Regions from separate parts of the Homo sapiens genome. Here region 1 is linked to region 2. The links come from fine-mapping of genetic effects on gene expression. Tissue or cell type: whole blood. Region 2 holds a variant in brackets; the other region holds the start of a gene. All regions are shown on one strand. Distances are from middle to middle.

Region 1 (2,627 bases), 37 kb after region 2:
AACATGGCAGAGTTTACTGCCAAAATGAATGATCTCCACTTCTAGCCACTTCTGACTCAAGCTGCCCTTCTAGGTTTAGACCACTCTCCCCAGTGAAAGATCAACAAGACGGGCTCCTGGGAAATGCCAAAGAGGCTTTGTTGCCTTGGGTTCAGGGGTCAAAGGTCTAGGCTGTTCCTTAAGTCTTTTTGATGTCTTTTTTTAACATTTTTGGACCCAAGGGTGGGTTTGGCTTAGCTCCATACTCCACGTTTGCTTGCCATTTGAACTTCAGAGATGAAAGGCAGATCCCATAGCACTTAAGAGATTTTCCAGAACACTAGCTGGTCAGGGCAGAGCTAAACCTAAACGCAGGCCATCTACTTCCTACTGCTGAGCTAGTGCCCTCTGGAAGCATTGGCATATGGTGGTGGCCTCTGCTGCCCTGGCTAACTTGAGTCAGGGTCAGGGTCTTCCTACCTGTAACCCCTTCATCCCCACCCCAGGCACTGAAGCCCCACCATCTGTTTATGAGGCGGGTGGCCACAGAGATAGGCTGATGGTGAGGGGGTTTCACACACTGCGGTAACTAAGGCCTGAGCCCCACCCACTCTCCACCCCTGCGCTTAGTCCCACTTGACAGATAGAAGATCCTATTGTCCCTGAGCACTGTTAAGGGCTGAACTTTGTCCTCCAAAATCCATGTTGATGTCCTAACACCTAGTACCTCAGAACGTGACTGTATTTGGAGATAGGGTCTTTAAAGAGGTATTAAGGGTAAACGCAGTCATTAGGGTGGGCCCTACTCCAATATGACTAGCGTCCTTATAAGAAGAGGAAATGTGGATGTGGACACAGCCACACGCTGAGGGAAGACCCATGTGAAGACACAGAGAGAAGGCAGCCATCTGCAAGCCAAGGAGAGAGGCCTCCGAAGCAACCAAGTCTGCCAACACCTTGATCTTGGACTTCCAGCCTCCAGAATAGTGAGAAAATAAATTTCTGTTGTTTAAGCCCCCTGTACTTTGTCATGGCCGCTTTAGTAGACTCATGCGGGCACTTGCTGTAGACGCTGACCCCCTTGACCCTCCCTCGCTGCCCCTGCATTCTCCTCCACACACCCCTGAGCCCCAGCCCCAGATTCATCAAGTCCTTAGAGTCAGGAGAGTGGGCTCCATAAATCTGCAGCTACATTTTCCCATTTCAGGGCCTTTGAGGAGTGCTGGTTTGTGCTTCAAAGTGGGCCAGGGAAGGATAAACTGCCTTTGGAGCATTTGAGAGATTGAGGAGAGAACAGGAATCACCCAGAAAACAGACTGACGAATATTTTGAGTTAGAATCCTGCCACCCATGACAAGTCAGCTCCCACCCCTCCAGAGTCTCCAGCTAGAGCACTTGCAGTAAGAGTTCAGTGGGCCTTTCCAGGCAGCCAGGCATGTGCTGCCCTCCGGATTCATTAACAGGGTTTCTTGGGGTCAGAGGAGGTGCCAAAGCCCTGAGAGAAGCCAAGCCCCAGAGGACTCCCAAGTTCTCCCCGCAGACTCATATTCCTCTTGTAGGTGGGAAAGGGACGGAGAGGTGCAGGGGGAACGCCCTGTTCCACATGCCGTATTTACTCTGGGCATGGCTAATGACTCCAGGGCCTTATCATTCGGCCCTCAGACTGGGCTGGGCAGGTCTGAGAGTTAGGGAAAGTCCGTTCCCACTGCCCTCGGGGAGAGAAGAAAGGAGGGGGCAAGGGAGAAGCTGCTGGTCGGACTCACAATGAAAACGCTCCTTCTTTTGCTGCTGGTGCTCCTGGAGCTGGGAGAGGCCCAAGGATCCCTTCACAGGTGAGAAGACGTCCCCGCACTGTGTTCAGCTGGGTAGTCCCATGCCCTGCAACTCAGGGCTGCTCTGGGGTAGGAAAGCTGATGGGGAGGTGAAGAGGAGGAGAAGCTGAGGGCTTGCGTCAATGCATGGAAGAGACTCATCCAGTGACCGCCTGTGTATGGCCTTAATCTCCAGTCCTCAACAAGTCATCCTCCTGCCTCCACCTCCACGGAGGTGCCTTCCCAAGTCCCAGGGGTCTTCTTGTGTTGCAAAAGAGCAGGAACCTGCAGTTGTGGTTTGTAGCTCAAAGCGCCCCAGGACTTCCCCAGGGGACTGACCATCACTGTCCCCAAGAGTTTTTCTGTCCCTTTAAATCAGCCCTTCGTGATGTTCATGTAAAACTGTAGACCGCCCCACATCTCCCATTTTCCTAGATCTCAAAGACCTCAGCTCCAGGAGGGGAGCCATTTCCACTCTAAGATTCTAAGACTCTATAGGGCAGAGATGAGGCCGGGCAGGCTGAGTGGCAGAGAGGACGCTGATCCCACCTGTATCCTGCGTGCTGTCTTGCAGATCCCCCCCTCCCACCCCATCTTCTCTAGTTGGCCCCTGAGAAAATGGGACGAGAATGGGGGGAAGAGGGAGGCAGAAGTACATCTCCTGCTTACATGGGGGTTTGTCTCCAGGGTGCCCCTCAGGAGGCATCCGTCCCTCAAGAAGAAGCTGCGGGCACGGAGCCAGCTCTCTGAGTTCTGGAAATCCCATAATTTGGACATGATCCAGTTCACCGAGTCCTGCTCAATGGACCAGAGTGCCAAGGAACCCCTCATCAACTA
Region 2 (2,756 bases):
CCCTTTTGCCTCAGGAGGGGCAGGAGCTCAGAGGGCTTCCTTGTTGGCCAGGCTGTCTCAGGAGCCTGCCTCTGGGGCTGGGGGTGATCTGGACGAGCATGTCCTGTGTTTCTTGTATGTCACTCCTTTCTATTAGAACAGTACTTTGATTCTAATAAATCAGAAGAAATGTCTAGCCATCCACCTCCATCAGAATATGTTTTACGTTTTATTTTTATTTATTTACTTTTTTTAGAGATGGAGTCTCACTCTGTTGCCAGGCTGGAGTGCAGCGGTGTGATCTTGGCTCACTGCAACTTCCGCCCCCTGGGTTCAAGTGATTCTCCTGCCTCAGCCTTCCAAGTAGCTGGGATTACAGGCATGCACCACCACACCTGGCTAATTTTTGTATCTTTAGTAGAGACGGGGTTTCACCATGTTGGCCAGGATGGTCTTGATCTCTTGACCTGGTGATCTGCCTGCCTCAGCCTCCCAAAGTGCTGGGATACAGGTGTGAGCCACCGTGCCTGGCCTATGTATTTTTTTTTTTTTAAACACACACATAAATCTAAAGCAAAGGGTATGCCAAGATTCAGCTGGGGCCAGGTCTGACCCCCACTCTGAGCATCTCATTAGCTTCCCATCAGTGGAATACAATGGAGACATATTCCACTTGGTCTGGCAATGTCCTCCTGGGGTGATGAAAAGGGGGCATGTTGGTGTAGACAGCAAAGTCGTCCTCCTTCTGGGGAGCCAGGTTGATCACGTTGGAATATATGGCATCAGCATGGCAGGAAAGATCCTTTAGAGATAGAACCCTGGTTAGAGGCAGATGGCTGGGCACCAGGGACTTCCAAAGACAAAACAAGGCATTGGGCTGTCCCTACAGGACAGCAAGTAGAATGCTGAGTTCTTGCTGCACAAGCCCTAGATCTCAGTTTTCATAGGCATTTCCTCCAGATCTGCCCCCCGCCTCCTCCCACCACCCTCTGTGTGGGGTCTAGGTAAGGAAGCAGCCAGAAGGCCAGGATCCCCCTCTCTACATGCGACTGGACTAGTTCCTTACCGAGGACTTGTGGGGAAAGTTGGTCTGATGCCTCAGTTGTTTCTTAAATAGTCCTAGAAAAATGGATAAACTCAGAGTCAGTCTGAGTTGGGTTAATAACCATCTTTACTTGGTTGTTTGCTGGGTTTAGGGCTTAACTTTGAAATGCAAAATCCACCACACTCAGCCCATTGGGCCTCTGAGACTAAGTTAAATTCCCAGGAAGACACAGGGGAAATGAGTACGCTTTATAATTTATAATTTTGTTTATTATTTAGAAGAGATTATTTGGCATCAGTATTTCTTTTAGCTGAGGCATATAGGCCATAAGCATATATGCAGATGGCTTATACTATATATAGCTTTCAGCATGAAGAACTTGTGTGATGAGTAATTCTTATTGCTGTGTACAGAGTCCCCAGCAAGTCTAGAGAAG[A/G]GGTCTTATCTTCATATCTCCTTCATATTACCCTCCCACTACCCGCTCCCCTCCCCGACAAGACTGCCCCATAGGAAAAACACCCCAATCTCTGCCCCCAGTTTCTCCTCTCTTCATTCCCAGTTCCAGGGCCAGCTTGTTCAACTCACTCTCTTGCCTCCATTTCTTCAGGGTCATGGACAAGAGACCCACCAGGAGCAAGATGAGGGACACCACAGCAATGGAGCCAGAAAGGGCTGTGGCTGCTGTGCTTAGGCTGAAGGAAGCAACTAAGAGACATGAGGACCATCCAGCTGCTCTGGCTGGCTTTGGTGACCCTCCACAAAAGTGCCCTGGGGCCTCCTCACCCATGTAGAAGCTCTCCCACTTCCAGGCTTCACCTCCTTAGTGGCCAACCATCTCCTGCCTCCATTTTAGCCCCTCTTTTCAGCTCTAGCCTCCATCACCATGGCCCCCACTCACACCAATCCCCACAGATCCTTCCCCAGGAGCCCACCTTCCTCCTTCATGGATCCAGCCCTTCTCTCACCCACCTGCTGAGTCCTGCAGTGTTAGTCTCTGGCTTCAGGGTGGTGATGTTCTCTGCATAAGGGGAAGGAGAGGAAAGTAATACGAAGGAGATAGGAAGGTAATTCTTGCACACCTATGCAAATGAGCTCTACAGAATCCTAAATGGTAATATTAGCTACTGTTTATTGTGAACTTAGTATATATTGGGCACATTCATTATCTTGTTTAATCTTCATATATAGACCTGAGATAGGAACAATCATTATTCCTATTATACAGTAAAGAAAAACAGTTCTTGAGGATCACACTTGCTCAGGGTCATAGGGCTGGTAAGTGGCAGAGTTTGGACATAAACCTCCATCTCTCTGACTTTAAGTCGTGTGTTCATACACAGTATATTCTGCTGCCTCCATGTGATTGTTTCACTCCAGAGCTCTACCATTCTTACCAAGGGTTAGCAGATATGACAGGAGGTCCAGAAAAAGAGATAACCAGGATGTGCAGTGCTAGGTACCTGGGGGAGGGCATGTGAGAGGGGTTGACAGGATCAGGACATAAGCAAGGCCAGTAGAGCTACGGCTAGGAAGAGGTGGCAGGCGTGGGAGCCTGCCCATGCTCTGGTGGGGAAGGGGAGAATTATTCACACCAGGAAAGAATTTCTCCTGCCTCGAGGGATGGAGACACAAAGTCCATCCCCTCTCCAGCCACATTCTGTCCATAGATTCTCAGAGCTAAAAGGAATCTTAAACCCTCCCATTGTATAGGTGAGGAATCTCAGGGGAAGGC

What was found. PIP is the estimated chance that this variant, and not a neighbour inherited with it, causes the effect.
Region 1: it holds the start of CTSE, and the variant in region 2 is fine-mapped to the expression of CTSE in whole blood (TOPMed, PIP above 0.99).

Annotation. Positions count from the first base shown.
Region 1 is chr1:206,022,908-206,025,534 of GRCh38, reverse strand. CTSE (cathepsin E) reads left to right here and starts at 1,640. Exons shown (of 9, transcript NM_001910.4): 1 at 1,640-1,811; 2 at 2,478-2,627. The coding sequence starts at 1,744.
Region 2 is chr1:206,059,687-206,062,442 of GRCh38, reverse strand. The region is part of intron 1 of RHEX (regulator of hemoglobinization and erythroid cell expansion); the gene reads right to left. All of the region lies in intron 2 of LOC105372857 (a long non-coding RNA gene), which reads left to right. Among named protein-coding and RNA genes, the nearest start is that of RHEX, 7.9 kb to the right of the region's middle. The variant A/G (reference allele first, on the strand shown) is at 1,461.